7 linked regions of the Homo sapiens genome follow. The protein of the gene in region 5 interacts with the protein of the main gene of each other region in a biochemical or structural test. Each region holds a gene or a part of one and is shown on either strand. Other genes may lie near its edges. The genes, in order: ABCC6, MYOZ3, IQSEC2, CYTIP, SHANK1, SDC3 and DNM2.

What was found.
Region 1: the proteins of SHANK1 (region 5) and ABCC6 interact in a test that uses a peptide from one of them, tested with the Homo sapiens proteins (one large-scale study listed by IntAct).
Region 2: the proteins of SHANK1 (region 5) and MYOZ3 interact in a test that uses a peptide from one of them, tested with the Homo sapiens proteins (one large-scale study listed by IntAct).
Region 3: the proteins of SHANK1 (region 5) and IQSEC2 interact in a test that uses a peptide from one of them, tested with the Homo sapiens proteins (one large-scale study listed by IntAct).
Region 4: the proteins of SHANK1 (region 5) and CYTIP interact in a test that uses a peptide from one of them, tested with the Homo sapiens proteins (one large-scale study listed by IntAct).
Region 6: the proteins of SHANK1 (region 5) and SDC3 interact in a test that uses a peptide from one of them, tested with the Homo sapiens proteins (one large-scale study listed by IntAct).
Region 7: the proteins of SHANK1 (region 5) and DNM2 form a complex in vitro, tested with the Homo sapiens proteins (one study listed by BioGRID).

The regions. Positions count from the first base shown.
Region 1 is NC_000016.10:16,216,995-16,220,494, forward strand, and holds part of ABCC6 (ATP-binding cassette sub-family C member 6), read right to left. Parts: intron 2,954-3,500; coding exon 2,828-2,953; exon of another isoform or gene 2,689-2,827; coding exon 2,560-2,688; intron 1-2,559.
Region 2 is NC_000005.10:150,674,751-150,678,250, reverse strand, and holds part of MYOZ3 (myozenin-3), read right to left. Parts: intron 1,545-3,500; coding exon 1,376-1,544; 3' UTR 1-1,375. UniProt on the Homo sapiens protein: Myozenins may serve as intracellular binding proteins involved in linking Z line proteins such as alpha-actinin, gamma-filamin, TCAP/telethonin, LDB3/ZASP and localizing calcineurin signaling to the sarcomere.
Region 3 is NC_000023.11:53,311,351-53,314,850, forward strand, and holds part of IQSEC2 (IQ motif and SEC7 domain-containing protein 2), read right to left. Parts: intron 1-3,500. UniProt on the Homo sapiens protein: Is a guanine nucleotide exchange factor for the ARF GTP-binding proteins.
Region 4 is NC_000002.12:157,437,590-157,441,089, forward strand, and holds part of CYTIP (cytohesin-interacting protein), read right to left. Parts: exon of another isoform or gene 1,687-3,500; intron 1-1,686. UniProt on the Homo sapiens protein: By its binding to cytohesin-1 (CYTH1), it modifies activation of ARFs by CYTH1 and its precise function may be to sequester CYTH1 in the cytoplasm.
Region 5 is NC_000019.10:50,717,003-50,721,237, forward strand, and holds the start of SHANK1 (SH3 and multiple ankyrin repeat domains protein 1), read right to left. Parts: upstream 2,801-4,235; 5' UTR 2,404-2,800; intron 1-2,403. UniProt on the Homo sapiens protein: Seems to be an adapter protein in the postsynaptic density (PSD) of excitatory synapses that interconnects receptors of the postsynaptic membrane including NMDA-type and metabotropic glutamate receptors via complexes with GKAP/PSD-95 and Homer, respectively, and the actin-based cytoskeleton.
Region 6 is NC_000001.11:30,881,259-30,884,758, forward strand, and holds part of SDC3 (syndecan-3), read right to left. Parts: intron 1-3,500. UniProt on the Homo sapiens protein: Cell surface proteoglycan that may bear heparan sulfate. May have a role in the organization of cell shape by affecting the actin cytoskeleton, possibly by transferring signals from the cell surface in a sugar-dependent mechanism.
Region 7 is NC_000019.10:10,724,579-10,728,078, reverse strand, and holds part of DNM2 (dynamin-2), read right to left. Parts: intron 1-3,500. UniProt on the Homo sapiens protein: Catalyzes the hydrolysis of GTP and utilizes this energy to mediate vesicle scission at plasma membrane during endocytosis and filament remodeling at many actin structures during organization of the actin cytoskeleton.

The sequences.
Region 1 (3,500 bases), on a different chromosome or scaffold from region 5:
CCCAGGCCTGGATCAGTCATGCCTGGGAGATCCCATGGGTATGAGCTAATAAATGCATGAGCTAATGAACCCCCTTGACTTACCCTTTTCATTAAGCTAGTGTGAACTGAGGTTTTATGGCTTTAAACCAGAGCCCTAGTTTTAAATCATGATTCCTCTACTGGATTTTATACTCTTCTAGTTTTGGGTTTTTGTTTGTTTGTTTGTTTTTTGGCAGATAGCAGACAATTGGATATTCCAATGACAATATGGCCCATCTTCCCTAAACTCCCACTGTTTTCCCCACTGTTTCTCTCAGAAAGTTTGTTCTGAATTTGCCTGAGATGAACTCGGGCTCTGCACTCCCAAGCTTTGTGGCCCTGAGGCCGTCATTCCCTTCTCCTAGCCTTAGTCTCCCTCATCTTTAAAATGGGACGGCTAGAATTCATCATTGGCTGGGGCACATTGGCTCAAGCCTGTAATCCCAGCACTTTGGGAGGCTTAGGTGGAAAGATCGCTTGAGCCCAGGAGTTTGAGACCAGCCTTGGGAACATAATGAGACTTTGTTTCTATTTCTATTTAAAAAAATAAAGAACCCATCACTGTGAACTCTTGTGAGAATCCAGTGAGGAGACGTGTGTAAGTGCCTGCCACAGTGCCTGGCACATGGTTGGAACCCCAGAATGTATATGGTCCCAGTATTATTGTTTCTATGCTGTGTCCCAAAAAGCTGACTTATGTCAACTGTGGGAGCCCACCATTTCAGAAATTACTGAATAACCTGTGGAATTTCCCCTTAGTTACAAAGGTTACTCTTTTAAAAACTCTGTCCTCGGTCAGGCGCTGTGGCTCACGCCTGTAATCCCAGCACTTTGGGAGGCCGAGGCGGGTGAGTCACTTGAGGTCAGGCATTTGAGATGAGCCTGGCCAACATATTGAAACCTTGTCTCTACTAAAAATACAAAAATTAGCTGGGCATGGTGGCACATGCCTGTAATCCCAGCTACTTGGGAGGCTGAGGTATGGGAATCGATTGAACCCGGAGGTGGAGGTTGTAGTGAGCCAAGATCGTGCCACTGCACTCCAGCCTGGGCAATAGAGCAAGACTCTGTCTCAGAATGAACAAACAAAAAATAAAAACTCTGTCCTTAAGGACAGGGTGATGCTTCTCTACCTTCTCCTTTAGGGGCAGGATGGAGTAACCACTGGACTGAAGAAATGATCTGTGAGTCCAGACGTGGTGGCTCATGCCTCTAATCCCAGCATTTTAGGAGGCTGAGGTCAGAGAATTGCTCGAGCCGAGGAGTTCAAGATCAGCCTGGGCAACAAAGCATGATGTTGTCTCCACAAAAATAAAATAATGAAGTAAAATATCTGAAACCTGCTGCAGCCTGTTCATTGGTGTTAAGATAACTCCCTCTCCCAGAAGCCTTGGCTAAGCACACTGTCGAGGCCAGTGCTTCTCAATAGGTGGGTGACTTTGTCCTCCTCACCCCCAGGGACACTTGGTAATATCTGGAGACATTTTGGGTTACTGCAATTGGATGGTATGCTACTGGCACCTATGGGCAGAAGCCAGGGATGCTGTTTCACACCCTGCAGCAAACAAGACAGCCCTGTCCACCCAACAAAGAATTGTCTGGCCACAACATTACTAAAGCTGAGGCTGAGGGAAGTTGGTCTAGGCTACATGTTTTTCTCTTTACAGAGAAAATGACCCATCATGTCTCCTAATAGAGAAACGCTGCTTCCGGCCGAATGACAAGAGCTCACGCCTGTAATCCCGACACTTTGGGAGGCCAAGGCAGGTGGATCACTTGAGGTCAGGAGCTCGAGACCAGCCTGGCCAACATGGTGAAACCTCGTCTCTACTAAAAATACAAAAATTTTTAGTAGAAATTTAGTAGAAATTTTTAGTAGAAATTTAGTAGAAATTTAGAATAAGCCAGGTGTAGTGGCACACACCTGTAATCCCAGCTACACAGGAAGCAGAGGCAGGAGAAGTGCTTGAACCCGAGAGGCAGAAATTGCAGTGAGCTGAGATCATGCCACTTCATTCCAGTCTGGGCGACAGAGCAAGCCTCTCAAAAAAAAAAAAAAAAAAAAAAAAAAAAAAGCTGCTTCCCAGATTGGGCAACAGAAATACGAGTGGTGTGCAGAATGAGTGTGTAAATATAGGTGCATAGGAACATGGGGAGGGTGAATCCATGACATGAGGGGAGGTGTGCACGGAGGGGTATGTGTGCACACAGGTGTGTCTGTGCCCAGGTTGTGTGTGTGTGCGTGCATGCATGTACTTGTGCGATGTATGAATCAGTGCCTATAAGTGTGTGCATCGTGTGCAAGTGGCACGTGTGATGTGGGCCTGTAAGACAGGAAATTGTGTTGATAAGAAATGTATGGGATGATGGGTACTGACAGGTGCGGGAGTGGATTTTGTGTCTCTAGAGTGTAAGTGACTGGCTTGTGTGTGTCACTGTATAGAGAATAAGTTGTATGTGGAAACAGGAGGAGAAAGGAAGGGACCCAAGGCATGAGCCACCATTTTGGTTTCCCAGGGTGGCCCACGCCCCGACTTACCGCTCCGGAGGCCTGCTGGGCAGCGTTGGTAGCTGGCAAGACAAAGCAGAGAAGCCAGTAACCAAACAGCACTCCAGATGACTGGACTCCCTTTTTCCTCTCGGTGTGAATCAGGAACACTGCGAAGCTCTGGACGGGAAAGTCAGGGAGGCCCCTTAGGGGAGGGTGGGAGGCTGAGGGGAGCCTCTTCTCTTCCCCTTGTTCTCCACTGTGGCAGGCAAAGCAGCAGCTGGGAGGAAGCCGGGCTCCAGACTGAAGGCATCATTACCATCGTGGTGAGCCACACAGTAGGATGAATGAGGAATTCTGGGGCCTCAGGCGTTCCCTGTTGGATTTTCCAAAGAGCGACAGCCACGCTGGAGGTACACAGGACTATGAGGGCGAATCCAAGCACCTGAGGATACAGGCTTAGATAAGCTTGGGGGGCAATAAGAGAGGTCACAGCAAACTGGTAGGCGGCCCCATGTCCAACTGGGAGCTGGTTCTGCAACATCCTGGCTGATACTGAGTATACCAGGGTCACCAGCTAGCAACGTGCCAATGTGAACAATGTGTAAAGGGCATTGCAGATCACTCCTGACCTGTAACTGTCATATAAATAATGCACAGGAAGGGCTTGAGCCAACCGAGTGTTTTCCAAAATGCAGGAAGTGCTCCAATCGTGCACATATGAGATGACTGTGGGTATGGAGAAACAGCAGGAAATGAAATGTACTCACCAGGTAAAAAACTATCCTTTCTCCAAGTCATTTTTCAATCCCTGCTATGAAATCAAGGAGCAACTCTCTGTTGGGCCAGTAAGTCTCTAGGGTCTCTCTAATATATTTTGGTTTCTCTATTGAATAAAAGAAAGGAAGAAAATGAGAGAACGTGGGCACACCAGAGGGAAGGCCAGAGCTAGGTTACGTTGGAGGAACTGCTCAAAGAACCTCAGTTTAAAG
Region 2 (3,500 bases), on a different chromosome or scaffold from region 5:
AGTGGAAAGAAGGAATCTTAATAAGCACCCCACTTTGCACCTGTCCTGTTAGGTGCCCAGTGGGTGGCCCCTTCTCTCCATTCCCATGGCCTCATCCCTTGCAGGCTTCCTGGCTTCTGGCATTACCCTTCTCCAATATGCGCCCCACACAGCACCCAGCAAGACCCATCACTAAAACCTTCCCCATTTCCTTAGTGAAGCCCACCCCATGCTGGCCCTCACTGGCTCCTCTAGCACAGCCTTCTCCCTTCTGCAGAACACCCTGCACCCGTGCTCAGTTCCATATTTTTGCACATGCTGGTCCACTTTCCAGAAATACCCTCCCCCTCACACCCCCTTCATGGACTCTCACGCCTCCCACAAGGTCCCACTCAAATCCTTCAGGAAGCTTCCAGAATCCCATCTCACACCTAGGGTGAGGGACTCCTTCTTCTGCTCCACAACACTTTGTTCCTCAATTGTCAATAAGCATGCTTTAGGGAAAATTATGGTGACTTCATGCTCTATAATGTCTTCCCTACTGTCTTTTCCTCCTCGAGGCCCGGGCCTGGCAGTGTCTAGCGCACAGTCAGCGCTTAGGAACTGTTTAGAGCATGAATAGATGAAGACCAACTGCATCTCAGTAAAAGGAACATTTTCTAATTATTTGAGTTATTCACAGGAAGATGGGGTGCCAGTGAGCACCCTGTCACCGGGGGAGTGTACACTACAGGAACAGGAAAGAGCAGAGGTGTGGATGTGGACTCCTAATGACACAAACCATGGATAAGTTATGCTGGAATCACCTGGAGTACTGGTTGCTATTTATTTATTTACTTTTGAGAAGGAGTCTCACTCTGTTGTCCAGGCTGGGGTGCAGTGGCGCAATCTCGGCTCACTGCAACCTCTGCCTCCTAGTTCAAGTGATTCTCCTGTCTCAGCCTCCCAAGTAGCTGGGATTACAGGCATGCACCACCATGTCCGACTCATTTTTGTATTTTTAGTAGCGACGGGGTTCCACTATTTTGGCCAGACTGGTCTCAAACTCCTGACCTCAGGTGATCCTCCTGCCTCGGCCTCCCAAAGTGCTGGGATGACAGGCGTGAGCCACGACACCCGGCCCTGGTTGCTATTAATAATACAGATTCCTCGACTCAGGAGACTCTGATGCTGCAAGTCTGGGACAGTCCAGTTGTCTGGATTTGGAACAACATCCCCAGGTAATTTTGAAACACACCCATGTTTTGGGACGACTGAACTTGGTGACCTCTGAAGCCATTTGCAATCAGGTTTTGTGTGTGAAGGCCCTTCTTCAACTGTGAAGTGCTGTCCACAAGTCTTGGCTCCGGATGTTACCAGGCCCCCGAGACTGGGGAACTGAAGATTCAGGCTAGGGCTACAGCTCCTCGGACTCTGGGAGGTTACGGACCCAGCCCTGGGCCACTCTGTTGAAGCTGGGTCTGAGACGGAGGAGTTCCAAGCCACTGAGGGGCTCCGGGATGAAGGGGGTGCCTGGCCTGGGAAAAGTGCCCCCCACGAGGGGTCCTCCAAATGGCACCGGGGTCCTGGAGAAAGAGAGCAGCAGGAGAGGTGGGCTGTGTGGAACAGGGACAGCAGTACACTGACATGTGGATCACCATGTATGGGCCCCTCCCTGCCGCTCTCTGAGCCTCAGTTTTCCCTTCTATACAGCAAGATTCTGTACATCTTTTTTTTTTTTTTTTTTTTGAGACAGAGTCTCGCTCTGTCACCCAGGTTGGAGCGCAGTGGGGTGATCTCAGCTCACTGCAACCTCCGCCTCCCAGATTCAATCAATTCTCCTGCCTCAGCCTCCTGAGTAGCTGGGATTACAGGCACGTGCCACCATGCCCGGCTAATTTTTGTATTTTTAGTAGAGACGGGGTTTCACCATGTTGGCCAGGCTAGTCTCAAACTCCTGACCTCATGATCCGCCCATCTCGGCCTCCCAAAGTGCTGGGATTACAGGCGTGAGCCACCGCACCCAGCAATTCTGTACATCTTAAGAGGTTTTTTTCAACTTTGCCCATTTCCAAGTCTGCGCCTACTTGGGTGGTTCGTTGCTTAGCAATAGAAGTGAAGCCGATGGAGTCAGAATTGACTTGTCCTAGGCAAGACTCTAGACTCCCCTTCAGTAAGCTCCCCTTAGGACAAAAGGCCCAAAACTAGAGAGAGAAGAGAGCATTAGAAAGAGCACTGAAAATCAGGGGGGAAATGCAGATTACAACAGATATGCCATTTCTCCTCCAGGACACTGGCACGATGAAATAATGTGGTAACTGGGCAAAGTTGGTGAGATGGCGGGGGAAAAGTTTCACACATGCTGCTGGTTAGAGGGTAAGCCAGTGCTGCTACCGCAGAAGACAATTTGGCAGGATCTTTCTAACCTGAAATGTGTGAACTATGTCACCCCGCATCTTCACCTCTGAGCATATGGCTTAGGAAAGCACAGGCGCGTAGGCACTGGGATGCAGACCTGAGCAGCACATTAGTGACAAACCAGAAACAACCCACGTGTCCACTAGCAGAGAAATGGGCAAGACAGATAGAGCATGCTCACACGATAGAAAGCTATACAGCAGGCTGGGCACGGTGGCTCACGGCTATAATCCCAACACTTTGGGAGGCCGAGGAGGGCCGATCACCTGAGGTCAGGAGTTCGAGACCAGCCTGGCCCACATGGTGAAACCCCGTCGCTAGTAAAAACACAAAAATTAGATGGGCATGGTGGTGGGTGACTGTAATTCCAGCTACCTGGGAGGCTGAGGCAGAAGAATTGCTTGAACCTGAGAGGCAGAGGTTGCAGTGAGCTGAGATTGTGTCATTGCACTGCAGCCTGGGCCACAAAAGCAAAACTCTGCTCCACCCCGCGAAAAAAAAAGAAAAAGAAAACTATACAGCAGCTTAAAAGGAACTAGAGCTCTACGTATTAGTATGGTAGATTTCGAAAGCGTAATGTTGAGTAAAAAAAGCAAGTTAACAGAATGAAGTGCAAAGTATTAACACACACACCCCCACACACACACAAACGCCATTCCCCCTACAGGCATGCAGCTGCCCACACAAAATGTTCTGAGCCCATTCAGGCCAGCCTGACAACCATGTTACCTTTGGGAAGGCAACTGGGATTGGAGGATGGTGAGCAAAGGGGCTCTACATTTATTTGCCTAACATTTTTTAAAAGAGAACCTATGTATGTGATTTTAATAATACTTTTTTTTGTTGTTTTGTTTTGTTTTGTTTTGAGACAGGGTCTTGCTCTGTCACTCAGGCTAGAGTGTAGTAGAAGGATCTCGGCACACTGCAACCTCCGCCTCCCAGGTTCAAGCGATTCTCCCACCTCAGCCTCCTGAGTAGCTGGGATTACAAGTGTGTGCCAAGAAGCCCAGCTAATTTTTGTATTTTTAGTAGAAATGAGATTTCATCATGTTGGCCAGGCTGGTCTTGAACTTCTGACCTCAAGTGATCCGCCTCCCTCGGCCTCCCAAAGTGGGATTACAGGC
Region 3 (3,500 bases), on a different chromosome or scaffold from region 5:
TTAAAACCCTACTGGTCATGAACGCTGCCACTCCTCTGAGCTTCCAGAGCAGGCTGCGCTCCCCTCCATCATCATCTTTCTCCCCACATAGGTTATCTCTACTCCCACTGCCCAAGCACAGGCCTGATCATCTCTCATCTAGACTGCTGTACCAGCCTCCTCCCTGGATACCCTCCAATCTATCTTCCAAACTGCCCTCTAGGGGGATCTCTCCAAAACGTGGCTCTTGACATGTTCTCCCACACCACAATAAGCACCTCTCCCCCAGTTTAAAATGCTACTTGGCCAGGCATGGTGGCTCATGCCTGTAATCCTAGTACTTTGGGAGGCCAGGGCAGGTGGCTCACCTGAGGTCAGGAGTTTGAGACCAGCCTGGCCAATATGGCAAAACCCTGTCTCTACTAAAAATACAAAAATTAGCCAGGCATAGTGGCACACGCCTGTAATCCCAGCTACTCGGGAGGCTGAGGCAGGAGAATTGCTTGAACCTGGGGCGGGGAAGAGGCTGCAGTGAGCTGAGATCACGCCACTTCACTCCAGCCTGGGCGAAAGAGCAAAACTCCGTCTCAAAAAAATAAAAACAAAAACAACACAAAAACAAAACAGCAGAAAGCTCCTGACGCTGCTAGTGAAGTGTCCTCAAGATGTGAGCCGGCCAACCCTCCAGACTCCCCTGCGAGTCTCTCTGTTTGTGCTCTAGTTTGTACTGAACTCATAAAAAAACAAAACAAACAAACAAAAAACCTCCCCATACACATATCCTGCTGGGCCCATACCTCTGTGTGTTTGCTCATGCTGGCCCCTCTGCCTTAACCTCCCTTTTGCCCCCAATTCCCACCAACCCACATGCTGTCCTTCTTCACCTAGCTAACTCAAACTCATCCTCCAAGCCTCAGCTCAGGTATCACCTCCTCCAGTAAGCCTTCCCTGACAGTCCAGGGTGATGTCTCTCCTTTGAGCACCTGTGGCCCCCTGTGCTCCCCTCTGGCATGACACACTGGATAGCACACTGCAATCGTCTATTTCCACCACCACCTTCTCCACCCAATTATGAGCACCTTGAAGCCAGGAACTATATACTAATCATAGAATTCTCTGCCTGTGATGGCACAAGGCATGGCACATCCTGGCATGCAATGTTCACTGGACTGACCTCTCTCTCTGAAATGTGGTGAGCTGCCACATGGTTTCTCCTCCTGTCCTCCCACAGCACAGAGCTTTACAGAGTTATTATTAATAATAATGGCTATCGCTGAGTAAACACATACTGTGTGCTCAGCGCTTCACCTACGTCATCTTATTTAATTTTCACAACCATCACAATGAGATGGGTTGTTTATGAATTGGCTGGCATATCAGATATACAGTTGTGAGAGATGCCTCTCAGATTTATAAGAAAATGTGGGGGAAGAGCCAAGTTAGGTACTTTTCATCACAGATATAATGACAATAATTCTAAAGTGGTTATATGAAGGAAAATATTGGTTTTATTCAGGTGAATGCAGTATGCTGTATCCTGGAATCCAGCAGGAAATCACAGGGCCTGGATATGCAGTCCTATCACTCCTTTAAAAAGGTATAAAAATCACATCGCTCCAACGAAATGCACTAGTGAAACATTAGTGAAATGGTACCTATTAGGTGATGATAGTGATACATTTACATCTAAAATGTTGGAGGAATAATCCTGATCAGCCGTGTAGCTCTGGCTTGTCATCTTTGTTTTGAAAGGGATGCGATGCATCGGTCTTTGCATTGTTGTGTGTTTGCCACATTCCGCCTCTAGGGGGCAGGGCAGTCTCATGTATTATTTTCCATTCTCAGCTTTCCAGCCTGATCAGGACCTTGATGTACGGTATGCCAGGCAGCCAGGAAATTTTCTGATACAATTTTTTTGAGGGAGGTAGGGGGCTGGCAACATGAATCTCATGCATCAGAAAATACAGTTTTATTCCTATTTACTACTTGAGAAAACTGAGGCTCTGAAAGTGAAGTGATTTGCCTAGAGTTACACAAAGTCCTTCCATGGCACCACACTTTCTCTGAATGCTAAGGTCCCAGAGAGCTTCAGCTACTAAGCACTGGGGAATGGGCTTCCCCGTGTAAATGCTTCCAACAGGCAGGCTTGGAGAGAAACCAAATACCATGAGGAAGTTATAGTAACTGGCAAATTATGTTGCCCTAAACGAGCTTCCCCAAAAGAGGAAGTAAGTCACTTACTAAGCATTCTTCCCCATGACCAATGTTTATGATCCTGCCAGGGAACACTGCAGTGAGTGAGGCAGAGGGGCCAAGTCTTATGTCAACCCTGAGATACCATGTCCAGCTCAGGGTCTGAGCTCAAGAAAGGTTTGATGGATAAATAAGCAACTTCCCACTGGGCTGAGTGAACTGCACACAGGTCCTGTGCAGGCCTCTTTGCTCCTTTCAGAACAGAAGACTTGGCATCGAGGGTCAGGACCACAGCCTGACATGGCAGGGAGAGATAATGATCAGCAGATTGGTCTAAATGTCTCCAAAGTCTCGTCCAAGTCTGCTACCTTGACATTCTATGAATCGGAAGGCTGGTGAGCGTGAGAAGAGACAGCAAAGGCCAAAATGGCTCCAGGGAGCATGAGAAAAAAGCCACAGAAAAGCCAAAAGAATTTATTTTTCCTTAGGGATGGGATCTCAATTTGTTGCCCAGGCTGGAGTGCAGTGGCACAATCATAGTTCACTGTAACCTCAACCTCCCTGGCACAAGTGATCCTCCCGCCTTGACCTCCCAAAGTGCTGGGAGCTACTGTGCCTACCCCAAGAGAATTCTGAAGTTGTCATTTCTTACTACAGGAGTCCTGGAAGGAAGAAAAAATTAGGTACCTTTGGCTATTAGTTCAGCAGGACTCAATCAGACATTCATTTATCTACTCAGTATTTATTAAGCAGCTACTATGTGCTGTGCTATGTGTTTCCAAGCTTTTAGCTCCTTCACTCATGCCCACAGCACCTAACACAGAACCTGACACACAAAATGCACTCAGTATATGTCAGTTAAATGTAAATCTGAAGGGGGTCTCAGTCTAACAGAGGGGACATGAGATGTAAACAACCATGAAGGAATAAAAAGGGGCAATGTGCTCATTGAGAGGGTCAAGGATAGACCAAACATCAGAGACACCAGCAAACAGACATAGGAGAGGTAACAGCTGAGTCCAGCCTGGGAACTGGGTACAGCAGCCCAAGAGAAGGGAACAACATGAGCAAAGACCTAGAGGCTAGCAGAAGGCCTGAGTGGGCTAACCAGGGGGGCACACGGGTCAGCCTGGCTGGAGCATAGTCTGTACAAAGACGAGAGGAAAAAGGCAAACTGGGGACAGATCCTAAGAAGACCATGCAGGGCAGGCGGAGGAGTTCTCAGGCCAAAGAGAGAGTGAAACTACTGGAGCTGGACTGCAGAACATGGTCTGGCTGCACCTCATCAGAGGCTTGATGGAGAGAGAGCAGGAGGGGCAATCTACTAG
Region 4 (3,500 bases), on a different chromosome or scaffold from region 5:
CTAGGGAAGCTGAGTTGGAAGAATCGCTTCAACCCGGGCGGCGGAGGTTGCAGTGAGCTGAGATCATGCCATTGCACTCCAGCCTGGCGACAGAGTGAGACTCCATCTCAAAAAAAAAAAGAAAAAAAAAAAAGAAAGGAAGAAAAAGAAGACATACAAATGGCTAACAAATATATGAAAAAATGCTCAATATCACTCATCATTGGGGTAATGGAAATTAAAACCACAATGAGGTATCATCTCACACCAGTTAGGATAGCTATGATCAAAATGACAATAAATAATAAATGCTGGTGAGGATAAGGAGAAAAGGGAACTTTCATACACTGTTAGTGGGAATGTAAATTAGTACAGCCACTATGGAGAACAGTATGGAGGTCCCTCAAACAACTACAAATAGAACTACCATATGATCCCGCAATCCCACTACTGGGAATTCATCCAAAGGAAAGGAAATCATTATATCGAAGAGACATCTGCACTCCCATGTTTATTACAGCACTATTCACAATAGCCAAGAGATGGCATCAGCCTAGGTGTCCAACAACAGATGAATGGATAAAGAAAATGTGGTATATATACACCATGGAATACAATTCAGCCATAAAAAAGAATGAAATCCTGTCATTCACAGCAACATGGATTGAACTGGAAGACATTATGTTAAGTGAGATAAGCCAGGAATAGAAAGTTAAACACCACATGTTCTCACTCATATGTGGAAGCTAAAAAAAGTTGATCTCATAGAAGTAAAAAGTAGAACAGAGGATACTAGAGGCTGGGAAGGGTTGGGGGAAGAAATGGATAGGGACACACTTGTTAAAGGATAAAAAATTACAGCTAGATAGGAAGAATAAGTTCTAGTGCTCTATACTGTAGGCTAACTATAGTTAACAATAGTATATCATGTACTAGTTTCAAATAGTTAGAAGGAGGATATTCAACAGTCCCAAAATGAAGAAATGATCATTGTGTGAGGGAGGTGATGGATATGCTAATTACTCTGATCTGATCACTGTACATTCCACGTATCAAAACATCACTATGTATACCATGAGTATGTATGATTATATATCAACTGAATAAGTACAAATTTTAAAAACCAAAAAATTTTAAATGAAAGAAAACAGACAAGAACAAAAAAAAAAATTCAATCCGAAACAAGAAATGCAGAAAAAGTACTAACAGAAAACAAAGATAGTAGTGCCTTAGTACATAGCTGCTAAGTGGATGAATGGTGGCAAGAATTAATAAATTATTAGTAAAATTTTGAGCCTTGTCAATTTTAAATACCCTTTTAGTATGCCGGAAATCAGTGCATCTATTAGGAACTTCAAGATTTCATCCAATCGGTCTTTTGAATCAAAAGTCATTCTGGATAGATTCAAATGTAAAATCTTTTAAACCACAGGACAGACCTGAAGCCTCTATAGATATTTCCCCCACCACTCTACTTCTAACCTTTCTATCTAGCTAATTGACTAGTTAAAGATGAAAATATTTGTCTAGCACAACATGAGAAGCATAGCAGATTTTCAGTTCCTGTGGACTGACTAATTTGGGTTATCAGCAACACCAAAAGTCAGATTAAGTCAAATTACAAATTAGTTTCCATTCGGTATTAGCTAAGAGGCTGTTTCAAGCATCTAACACTTAAACAAAAAACAATTTAAATAAATTAAGTACCGTCAAATTCTCTGACACGTGCCACGTCTTGACACAAAGCCTGCTTGTTTTTGATCCGGGCTGTCAGACTCAGGCGATGTGGAAAGGAATGTTCCCAGGGTTCGAAACTAGCTCACACACCAAACTACCTGCCTAAAGTGAAATGAAGTGTGTCTAAGGTCTTATCAAGGGTTTTGCACTTTGAAAAAAAAAAAAAGTCTTTCCTGCCCCGCTTTCCCTAGGGCGAGCAGCCTTATTCAAGGATCTGACCAGTGGGGTCTATGTTCCCCAGACAGCCCTCCAGTCAGAGCCTTTTCTAAGGGTTGTAGTGATGGCGCCAAAAATCATGAATGAGGAACTGGTGTGCAATTCACAGCATATGCTGGCAACAGCTGTCTTTTATTACACATTATCTAATATGAGAAATCTAGGTTTAGCAATTTGGCAGGCTTGCAAACTACACATTCAATTATGACTGCTGAATAGACAAAGCTTCTTAACTCCTTGCTAGCCATAATACACTGATACCTAGGGTTGGGCTTATGATCACTCTTCTGTTTTTAGTCAGATAACTTAAAAGATCAGGCATTAATATTCAAAATTTAATTTCTTCTGCTCTGCAGTGATTCTACACATTCCTCTTCAGTGGGAAACCAAGACCAAATACTTCAGCTGTCAATTTCTGAAAGACAGGAGTACTTGGCAGCTCAGCCAGATAGCCAGCTCTCCTTAGAGAAGCTCAAAGTTCAACACTTTAGCCACTTCTGGGTTACAGAGGTTACTTCCTCCTGGTCCCCACTCTATATACTCATCTCCTGAAAGTGTTGGGGAGGGTGCGGGGGAGAGGTTACTGATTCCAGAGTGAGGTTTTTTGTCACTGTTACTTGTTTCAAAGGCCCCAAAATTATGTGCTCTGCTCCCTTTCCAGTCCCCTGCCTCACTCCCCAATTCTTCCATGCAACTCCCACCCACTTTTAAATAAGGAGCATTAGGATATCAACGCTCCACAGACTATTCAAAGATGCAACAAAATAATGGAGCTGAACTTAATTTCCTGACGTTAAGTGCCCGGAGAAACCGAAATACAATACCGCCATTTCCAAGTAAGGTCTGATGGTGGGCTCACAGACTCTTCAAGAAAAATTATTGGATATTGACCATGCATGCCACAATACAGATTAAAGAATAATTTTCAAAGTCTTTTCTAGTGAAATTAGCACAGTTTTCTACCTAAAATTGTCATGAGGTGATTAAAATCCTTTGGTGTAGTTCAGGACAATTGGGAGTTACGGCACCTGATGGGTGTGCTGCCGGACACACCGTGAAAGCTCCTGCAGGGCAGAGCCCAGCCCAGCAGTGTACACATCCCAGAGCAGAGCACACATTCCCTATCTGAACTTATAGATGAAATCAGCCTGCCAGAAGTTGCCTATTTAGCAATAATGTGATAACTAAAAGAAAATTAGGAAAAGAGAGTCAGTCTGTGGTACCACTGAAGTTTGTGGACTTGTTTGTCAGGTCCCTGGTTCTCACTATAGCATTCTGTAAAAACTGCTTTCCAAAAGCAACGTACTACATTTATGAGAGTGGGTGGTAAGACAATCACTACTTCTTTGACATCATTGATAGAGACTGTCCTTAATTCCTCCTGTCTCCTTCCTACCGAGCTTTCCATTGCAAAGATTTTTTTTTTTTGTCCTAAAACTGTGTTCACAAGTAGAAGCCATACTGGGGTGTCTGACACTTCCTATCAGTACAGGTAGTGAGATAATATGCACACAGAGAAATCTATCTTTAAATAATTCTGAATGTAAACACCCAATTGATTCTGAAGA
Region 5 (4,235 bases):
ACCCCTCAGAGGCCGCAGGCGCTATTCGGTGGTCAAGCGGTCAAGGGCAGCCTACCCCCACTGCCCAAGATAGGCAGGAAGGAGGCTGGACACACCCTCGGCCTGCACGGCCTCCCCTGCCGCCTCCTCCCACGCTGGCACGCACACACCCCTGTCCCTGACATGCTTCTGGCATGTGTCTCCTTCCCTGCCCTTGGCCCCGCTTGCAGCCCGCCCCCTGCGCCCCACTTTGCTGGTGACCCAGCGTGGCCGTGTCCCAGAAACCGCAGAATCACCGCGGGAGCTACTGGCCCACTTTGCCAGGCCACAGAAAATGCAGCTAAAATTAGCTAAGGACAGACAGGTGGACAAACTGACAGGCATCCTGCCCTCCTGGCCCCAGCCTGGCCCCTCATCCCAGGGCCGGGGGGTGGGGTTGGGGAGAAGCTGAGGCTGACACTGAGATGTAGTAAGGGGGAGAGGGAGGTGTGGTGAGCCTGGAGCGGGTGGAGCTGGTGACTTCACTCAAGTGTGGCTGACAACGCGTGGCATGCCGAATAGTGCTGGGGAATCTGCCGTCCCAGGGGAGCAAGGGGCACTGAGATGGGGGTGTCATGGGCAGAGCATTTGGCCTAGGGTGTCCCCAAGGGAACCACAAGAGGTGGCTTTTGGAGACTGGGGCATCTTGAGAGGGTGTGCGGGTAGGTGGGGAGGTCGGCCTGGGGAGTGCTGTCCAGGTGACAGTGGTGTGGTGGCCCGGGTAGATGTGGGTGGCTGCAGATGACCTGTAGCTCTTTTCTAGGACTGCAGGGTGGGTGGGCTGGCTTGCTGGGTACTAGGGGCTCCACTCTGAGGACTGGGGGTGTTAGGAGGGAGGCTAAGAAGTGAGAGGAGGGTCTGGGGAACTGAGTGGGGGATCATCTCTAGATCCTTGCTGTTCTCCCTTGAGGTGGCCTTATGAGGGTGGAGCCCCTTCCAAATGGGGTCCGCCTCCCTTCTGTTCTCCCCCAACTCCCACCCCAGCACCGGAAACCAGAATGTCTGGTCTGGTCCCTCCCCCCAACACCAGGCCCGGTTCCTGCACCGTTGCCATGGAGATGGGAAGCAGTGGAGGGTACTGCTGACTTTGGGGGAGTGGGGATGGGCTGGGGGGTTGGGAAAGGGAAGACTAAATGTGTGTGGTGGGAGGAGAGTTCCAGGAGGTGTGGGCGAGCGAGCCTCTAACCCAGGGCCGGCGGACCCCTCCCCCACGCGCGGCAGCGCTGCGAAGCCCCCTCCCCCTCCAGGTACCCAGCCACGCCGCCCCACCTCGTCCCTGCGGAGACCCCGGCTGCCTCCTCCCTGCCCCGCCGCACAGCCCACCTCGCGATCTGGGGCCCGCAGACACTCCCCCTCGGCTGACCCTGGCTGACCCCCAGCCTCAACCCCGCTCGGAGGGGGTGGCCGGTGGGATGAAAGAAAAGCTGGCTAGGGCCCCCCGCGCGTACGGCTGCCCCAGCCCCCCCGGGCCGGCTCCGGCCCCTCCCCCTCAGGGCTCGCGGGAGGGAGCGGGCACGCTCCGCCGGGGCGGCATGAATCAAACGCTCCGCGGCTAAGAATAGCTGGCACGCAGCTGGTACCGAGACGGGCTGAGGAATCGGCGAGGGGGGTGGTGGAGGACGCGAGAGAGGGGGTGCCCTGGGAGGCTGTGGGGGGACAGGGGGCGGCTGGCGTGGCCGAGAGCGGGGCCGGGGAGAATGAATGGAGGCGGAGGGAGGCGGGGAGGGGCGGGGAGAGAGAGCCGGAGCCGAGGCTGGGAAACTGGTGGGGGAGAACCCGGCCGGGGAGAGGGGCGGGGGGCACCGGGGAGCAGGAGTCGGGGGCGGGAGCCGAGGGGGCGCGCCGGCCGGCGGTGTAGGGACTGGAGACCTGGTGGGGACGCAGGGAGCTTGGACAGGGGTGGAAAGGGACTGGAGGAGCCTGGAAGGAGAAGCGGGAGCTGGAGGGGTCGAAAGGGGCGGAGGAGGCCCGGGCCTAGACCCTCGCTGGAGGGGAGTGGGGACCAGGGTGACCTGGCGGAGGGGCCCAGGTACGCCAGGGAGGGCGAGGCGGGGGAGTGGCCGGGCTGGGCGGGGAGGCGGGTACCAGGACCGAGCCCTTGGCCCCGGAGAGCCGGGAGGCGGGTTCGGGATAGGGGCTCTGCTGGCCGGGGGTGGGGGGCGCGCCCTCCCATCAAGGATGCGATCTGGGACGGGGCACCGGGGACCCGGGCGTAACCCAATTTGGTGTCGCCCAGGGCAACGCTCCCCACCTCACCCGTACCCCCAGCCGCACACCCAGGCCAGGAGCCCGGCGCCGGGCCAAGGACATCCGGGGCGCCCTCGCCCCCTCCCGCGGCCCCGGCCCCGCAGCTGCCCCAAACCCCCAGGTTCTCGACCCCCTTACCTGCCTGGCGGGGCTGCTGAGTCCCGGTCGGCGGCGCCCGCGGCCCCTCCCCCCTCCCCCCACCCCCCACCCCCCCGGAGACGGGGACCCTCAGGCCATGCCCCACCGCCCCGGAGGGCGAGCGGGCCCGGGGAGGGGGCGGGCGGGGACCGGGGGGGAGGGCGGGAGGGCCGAGGACCTCACCCCCCCCGCGGGCCGGGCCTGGCCATCCGCAGAGCGCCCCCCCTTCCGCCGCGGCCGCCGCGCCCCTCCTCGCCCGCCCCCGGCTCGGTCCGGCCGGCTCCGGGCGCCGCGTCTCCGCCTGCTCTTCCTCCTCCTCTTCCTCGGGCCGCCGCCGCCGCCGCCCGCTCCGCGCCTCCTCTGCCACCCTTCTCGCTCTCTCGCTCTCGCTGTCTCTCCCTCACCCTGTCTCTCTCCCTCCCTCTCTCCCTCCCTCCCCTCCCTCCGCCCTCTCCCCTCCCTCCGGGAGCCGGCGGAGGAGACATCGCCCCTCCCCGCGCCCCCAAACCTCGCCCATCCCCCACCACCGCCGGCTCCGCCCCCTACCCTTGCCCTCCCCCACCACTCCTCCCCACCTCCGAGTCCCCAAATCCTGACTCCGCCCCTGCTTGCTCCCATACCCCGAGGAAGGGGTCCTGCCCCCATAAGGTGCCCCCCCACACACACCTCAGGACCACCCCCTCCCAGAGAGCTCCCCGCCGCCCTACACAGAGTGGGGCACAATAAATATTTGTTGCCAGACTCTACACCCCCAAATTTAAGTGTGAAGGCTATAGATTCCCACCCTGTCCCCCCAAACACACACACACCCTTTCCATTTAAGCACTGGGTCAGGGCACACGTGGACATACCTGGGCCAGGCCACATTTCCCCAAGGCACAGGTGCATAGTCACCAGCTGTAACGGCACCTGCAGAGTCCCCACATACACACACTCTCCAGCGCATGCATGCCCAGACACAATGCACCTGGGGTACACAGCTACAAACACACCCAGCTACATGCAGTTGTCACACCCCTGTGCCCGGGCACACACGCAGCACATGCACACATTTGCCCACCACACACGCACGTGCGCGCGCACACACGCACACAGGCGTTCACCCCGGTATGCATGCCCAGATCTCTCAACACCAAAACGGAGTTACAGCACTGTAGAGACGTGTGCACGCCTTCCCATCACACCCACCCACCGTGCTGTCCATTGCACTGGCTCGCACTCACCCGTTTACATGCCCAACACCGTGCCATCCTTCCCCTCCAGGATAGTTACTGCTGACATTCCTGGAGCACTTTCTGTGTGCCAGGCTCAGGGACTTTCGCCATCCCCATTTTCCAGAGGGGGAAACCAAGGAACAGAGAGGCTAAGTAACTTGCCCAAGGTCATCCAGCTGTAAGGAGGTGGTAACAAGGATCAGGAACAGGTAGGCTGGCTCCAAAGTCCTCACTTGACAACTATGGTGCACTACTGGGCATATCCCCTCATAGTTGCATATCCTTATTCATCACACACAGACACACCCAACCGTCTCCTCAGAGTTTGCACATGTCTGTGTAGGCACGCATATGCAGCCAGCTGCAGGCAGACAGCTCATTCATGCCTGGGACGCACCCACAGGGACAGAGCAGATCCCACAGGGCAGCAGTGAGTGGTGAGTGTCCCCTTAGCCCAGGCTTCCTCATTCTCCCAGCTCCAACAGCACCTCCAGGGCCTGCAGGGGGCAGTTCTAGGCAGCTTCTGGGTTCCCCTCCAGCTGCAGGCTCTCCGGGGTACCCGAGTATGAGCTGGAGGAGGTGCCTGCTCAGCCTGGGGAGGCCTCTATCTTGATGCGT
Region 6 (3,500 bases), on a different chromosome or scaffold from region 5:
CTCACAGACACACACACACACTCCTCTCCTCACCACACACCCCACGGATGCCCCCGAGAAACCTCAGCACATTCTCCTGACCCCACGCACCACACTCACCTCACCAAGGCCCACAACACGGACCCACCGCCATGGCCACGTATGTTCCCTAAACACACATCGCTCCTAGACATCACCCTCGGCAGGTGCATCCTCTGACTCAGACATGAACCTCACAACTCGGATACAACCTTTCCTCTCGGCTGCACCCCCCACACACAGCGAGCGTGCCCGGTGGAAGCACTGAACCTTCTGCTTCCGGCCACCACTGATCTCGGGAGGGGACACCCAGCAGAGGCTCCGCAAGCGGCCCATGAAGGCCTGAGCATCAGGTCCCAGGGGAGCCGCTGAGCGTTCCCAGGGCACTCTAGAGACCTCTGCCTGCTGCTGCTGAGGGCCTGCCCCAGGCCAGGTGCTGGGAGCATGTTATTTATGCAGCCTCCTTTAAGCATCACAACTGCCCAGGGTTTTATCATCCCCATTCCACAGATGCAGGAACTGAGGCAGGGGTTAGAATCCAGGCATGAGGCCTCTGTCTCTGAAACCCTTGTCCTGGACATTCCTGAGCCACCCCCAGACCCATTGCTTGTCCAGGGCTAAATTCATACATCTGTGCCCCGCAGCTGCCCTCACCCCCTGCATGACATCAACTCGGCAATGCCCACAGCTGTCCATGCCCACCCAACATCCACACCCACGCGCCAGCACACGATGGTGATAAGACTATGCAGCTCATAGCATTGCAGGAGAAGGGGCTGAGCACGGGACCCAACACACCAGGCACTCCCAACACCCTGCCTCCACATGTGCGCAGCCTACTTGTCCCTCCCTGAACCTGCCCCAGCAGACATACATCCCGCCTCACATGCCATTAACAGGTCCACAATACCTGCATCTCAGTTCCCTCCACACACACATGCGCGCAAACACGCACTTTCCTTCCGGGTACACACAAGTGCACACACACATCGGGATGAAATGTGGCACCCTTCCTAGTGGACTGATGCCCCCTGCTTCCATTTTTCCTCACAGTCCCCTAGTCACCACACCTTCCTGAAGTAACCCACAGCCTCACTCCACAGAGGCACCTCAGGCTCCCAGCCCAGAAGGGACCAGGCCCAGCAGTGACCCACAGGCCCCCTCACTCCACATCCACTCCCACCGATCCTCTCCTAGAGTTTTAGAGCAGCAGCTGGGGAGGCTCCCCTGGGCCAGGGGCAAGGAGGTGCCACCTCCCAGGTTGCCCAGCCCCCTCCCTCCCAGGAGCACCCCATCAGGGCTGTGATGGGTGAGGGTCCAAATGAGCTGGATGTCAGCTAAGTCTCCTCACTTTCACGGCTACCTCTACCCACCCACTCATCACTCACTCTGAGTGCAGGGGACACGTTCAGGAAGGCCAGTGCATCCCTCCCACCCCATCCTCTCTCAGAGCCCACTCCAGAATTTGGGGTCTCTCGTGCCCAGCCCCACACCACCATGAGCCTTCCTAGAGAAACCGGTCAGCACAGAGGCAAAGCATAATGAACCAGCTCCTCTTTACTACCCGGTTGGCTGTCAGGCAAGCCATTTAATCTCAGCACCTCAGTTTTCTCATCTGTAAAATGGAGATGATGAGAAGACTACGCAGCTCATAGCATTGCTGTGGGAAGGGGCTAAGCACAGGACCCGACACCAAGTGAAAAATGAATAAATCAGTGTAGCCACGATTGCTGTTAGTTTATGTTAAAATTTCTATTATTATTTCGAAGCCTTTATCTCATGTAAGCCTCAACCTCCTCATGAGGGAAGCCAAATTGGGATGACTACACCCAGGCAGATGAGACGATTAATGCCCGGAGAGGTTAAGTGGCATTGCCAAGGCCACACAGCAGGGGAGAGTGCAGAGAGAGACAAAAAGAGAGAGGTTGGATGAAGGGGGAGAAAGGGCAAGTTACAGAAACAGACACAAGCACACAAATTAGGTCAGCAGGCTGGGGGCCAGGAGCCCGGCACCCCTGTGCAGCGCTAATCATGTTGCAAAAAGCCAAGAATAAAATCGAGTGTAATTAGTTCTGCCCGAGCTTCCTTCCCCTAATTAGCCAGACTCAGGCCTCACTTTCCTGGTGACCAGAGGCGACATGAGCAAGGGGTGGGGGCCCAGCTTTAGGTTCTGACAGTCTTGGATTCAAATTCAGCTCTGCTTACTTGCTGGGTGACTTTGGATGTGTTACTTAACCTCTCTGAGCCTGTTTGGTTAAATGAGGCCAACAATGATACTTCATAGGGCAGTTGTGAGAATCAAGTGAGATCATGCCTGCACACAGTCGGAGCCGTATAAGGCTTTGTCTATATTCCTACAGCCTGCACTTCCCACCTCAGGCTGCAACTTCAAGGCTACACTGGGCCTGAGGGATCACTGAGTTCAACTCTCCCCTTTTACCGATGTGGAAACTGAGGCACAGAGAGGGGAAAGCCTTGCTTATCACGAAAGGAGGGGGCGGGGTTAGTCTGCCACGAAGCATTCAGAGAGGTAAAGTGATTTGCCCAAAGACACACAGCGACGTAACTACTAGCTCCTCGAGGCAGGGAGGGAGGGTGTCTCAGCATGGCCCTCTGGATCCCTGCAGGCTCCGTCCCCAAAAAGCCCTCAGTCCTGTGAGAACTCAGTGCCCCTCACGCTCACCAGATCCACCCCGGAGACCCAGAGCATCACCGCAGGAATGTGGGCTGGGGCCAAGCTCCGGGCAGCAAGACAGCCAAGGGGGCTGCACAATTGGGAGCCGGGACCAGGAGGGGGATGTCTCAGTCCCCACCCCCACCCAGCCACAGCTGCCCTGGCCAGGAAGCCGGCAGTCCCACACCCACTTGTGGCTGGAGATGAGGGGCACGAGGACTGCACCTGCTGGGGAAGGGGCTATGGAGCCCAAGTCCCAGAGAGCAGAAGCCCGGGGAGGAGTGGAATGGGGAGGGCAGAGAAGGCCAAGCTGAAACACCACAGACCCCCCCCAAGAAAAATCCACCAAGCCCAGACACACACCCTCCCACTCGCCCCAACTCACACACTCAAGCCTCTCACAAACCAAACCTATCCCCACCCCCTACTCCCATCTACAAAGGCAGCTCAGAGGGCAGGAAATGTTCCCTTTGGGCCTGTCCCATCCCAGTCAACTCCTCTGCAAAGATATCATGGCAGCAGAGCCCTCCCTACCCCAAGCCTGTATCTCTCCTGTCACCTCCAGTCTGCCCTCTACCCAGCCCTGTGTTCCCACCATCCCCCCAGGATGCCCTTTTTCCCACTGTGGCACCTGCCTCCACCCACATCCCCACCCCAGCCCCAACAGGAGAGCAGGTAGCAGCCCTGGCTCAGGCGCCCACAGCCTCCAAGACCGTGGACAAATCCTCTTCCCCCTTCTCTGCCTTTCCTTTGCCCCATTTGCAAAATGGAAAACCAAGCATGGTGGTCTAAGGGCCTTTCTGATTCT
Region 7 (3,500 bases), about 40 Mb from region 5:
GTTACCAATATTCACAGAAACCCAAAACGCACCCGGAAGCAGGCGTCTTTCCTCTCTTTGCAGTCCTGCTTCAGACGCAGGGCCACATTTTCCCTTTATTCAGATTGTAGCTAATGCCCTATAAATATCTCATTATTGGCTTGGATTTTTCCAAAGCTTTAACACAATAAGGGCTTAATTACAGCTTGTAGTTGGCAATCCCAGTAAATTACGGTTTACATGATGTTCTCACTTTTTTTCAGCAGCCGAGGGGCCTATAATTTCAGCACTTTCATTCAAATCGGGCAGAAGTTTGGCAGATGTGGCTCTGAGCCAAATATAAACGCTGAGAGCGACAGCGAGACAGGGTTCCATTCAAAGGCCAGCCTCTACCGCCTAAGCCAACTCTGAAAACTCTAAATCTAACCTAGGCCGGGTGCCGTGGCTCTTGCCTGTAATCCCAGCACTTTGGGAAGCCGAGGCAGGAGAATCACTTGAGCCCAGGGGTTTGAGACTAGCCTGGGCAAAAAATAATGAGACCCCACCTCTACAAAAAATTTCTTAAAATTAGCTGGGGGTGGTGGCGCACACCTGTGGTCCCAGCTAATTGGGAGGCTGAAGTGGGAAGATCCCTTGAGCCCAGGAAGTTGAGGTTGCTGTGAGCTGTGATCACGCCACTGCATTTCAGCCTAGGCAACAGAGTGAGATCCCGTCTCAAAAAAAAACAAAAAAAGAAAAAGAAAAGAAAAGAAAACCTCCTCTCTAAATCTACAACTGTCCCCAAGGCCATCTTCCGCCCTCATCCAGAAACAATCCAGGTTATTACCAGGGGATTTCAATGTTATGAACCTATCAAGGGCTGTTATCCGTCAATAAGTAACTCTGAAAAAGCACTTGGACAGCCTAGAGCGCAGCTTTGGAGAAATCTGTCTTCCTGATTATAAACCTAATCCCCAAACCAGCAAAAACAAACCAAGAATCACATGGGGAGACGATTCACATGTGGGGTTAGGGCAGAGTATGTCTTTCCGGTCTTTTCACTGAGCAAATACAATCGTTTTAAACAAGACAGGATCCCACAGCCCATTTCATCTGGTACCTAACAGGTCTTGTGCAGCTTTCTGGGTCATTAAAGATTCTTCTAGATCCCTCTGAGTAGCGAGTTGATAGTCGGTTGTCTGGACACGCTTATCTGGCCAAATCCCCTATCATTGGTTTTTGTTTGTTTGTTTGTTTTGAGACAGAGTCTCGCTCTGTTGCCCAGGCTGGAGTGCAGCGGCGCAATCTCGGCTTACCGCAACCTCCGTCCCCCAGGTTCAAGCGATTCTCCGCCTCAGCCTCCCGAATAGCTGGGATTACAGGCGCCTGCCACCACGCCCGGCTAATTTTTGTATTTTTAGTAGAGATGAGGGTTCACCATGTTGGCCAGGCTGGTCTCGAACTCCTGACCTCTGGTGATCCGATGCTGGGCATTTTTTCTCCCATTTCTCATCACCGTACACAAAATGTGTGTAAATAACTCTCACGGCCAATTACTTGTTTGCAGCCATGATTCCCACTTAGAAAGGAACCAGGAACAACTTCTGGTCGATATTTCAGGATCTGGGGAACAGGGCGTGCCTGCATGTCCTGGTCCTGGCTGTATCCCCAGAGCAAGAACATTGCCTGCACTGATAGGCACTCCATTTATATCAACAGAGTAATGATGAGTTCCTTCTCTTTAAGGAAAAAGAAACTAAGGCCGGGTTCGGCGGCTCACACCTGTAATTCCACCACTTTGGGAAGCCAAGGCAGGAGGATCGCTTGGGCCCAGGAGTTTGACACCAAACTGAGCAACAAAGTAAGACCCTGTCTCTAAAAAAAAAAAAATTTTTTTTTTTTGAGGCAGAGTCTCGCTCTGTCGCCCAGGCTGGAGTGCAGTGGCACGATCTCGGCTCACTGCAACCTCCGCCTCCCAGGTTCAAGCGATTCTCCTGCCTCAGCCTCCCGAGCAGCTGGGACTACAGGTGAGAGCCACCACACCCACCTAATTTTTGGATTTTTAGTAGAGACAGGGTTTCACCATGTTGGCCAGGATGGTCTCAATCTCTTGACCCCGTGATCCGCCCGCCTCGGCCTCCCCAAGTGCTGGGAATACAAGTGTGAGCCATCGCTCCCTGCCAAAAAAATTTTTTTGTAATTAGCCAGGTGTGGTGGCTCATGCCTATAGTCCCAGCTACTCAGGAGACTCAGGTGAGAGGACCACCTGAACCCAGGAGTTGGAGGCTGCAGTGAGCCATGATTACGCCACTGTACTCCAGTCTGGGGGACAGAGCAAGAGAAAAGAAACGTACACCTGTCATCAGAGTCCTGATCCCAGATAAAAGGAGACAAAAGCCAACCAACGAGATCACAAATGCTGCCTGTTTCACAACAATTTGCTACGTGATTCTCAGTCCACTCCCAGTAGGCAGAGACCACCATGTTCCCATTTTCCAGATGAGGAAACTGAGGCCCAGAGAAGTGAGGTCACTTTTTTGGTGTGTGGCAGAACCAAGCCTTCCATATTCCCACAGATCCCTCTGGACTGTACCAATTCCAGCAGGCCCAGCACTGCAGACCACCCTAACCGAGCCTTGCATGGCCTTTCCTTTTTTCCTTTTTTTTTTTTTTTTGAGATGGAGTCTCACTCTGTCCCCCAGGCTGGAGTGCAATGGCGTGATCTCCGCTTACTGCAAGTTCCTCCTCCTGGGTTCAAGTGATTCTCCTGCCTCAGCCTCCCAAATAGCTGGGACTAAAGGCATGCGCCACCACACCTGGCTAATTTTTGTATTTTTAGTAGAGATCGGGATTCACTATGTTGGCCAGGCTGGTCTCAAACTCCCAACCTTGTGATCTGCCTGCCTCGGCCTCCCAAAATGCTGGGATTACAGGTGTGAGTCACCATGCCCGGCCATGTATGGCCTTTTCAAGATGCAATTTGTCTTTGCCCAAAAGGAAAGTCACTGGAAACAGAAGATGTCATTTCCAAGTGGCTCTAAACTAATAAGATCTGTTAAAGGGACAAACCAGCCCAAGGAACACATCACGTGCCCCTCCATCTGTCAGGGACAGGAGCCAACGGGCATCCGATGTGCACTGGTGCAGCACCCACTGAGGCACAGGCAGTGCCCCCGCGGCTCATCCACATATCCCTGGAGGGACACATCACCAAAGGCCAAATAAAAACGCAGCTGGAAACGCCAGCATCCCCGGCACAGCTGCTTCTTATTAAAAGAAAAATGGCACGGGGCGCCTACATGCCTGTGGAGTCTGCTTACTGAGAAAACTGAGTTGAAGCTGGAAATCAAAGGAGAGAGCCCTCAGCTTGGCCAGGTCCAGAGGGACAGCAGTAGCGCCACCAGCTTTACTTCCCTCTGCTCAGACAGCCTCCCTGCCCACAATGTTCCTAGAGGCCTGGTCCCACCCTAATATCTCCCAGATCTGATCTCCCTCCACTGGCCTGCTAAACTGGCCTCCGGGCATCCTCCCACATCAGGACC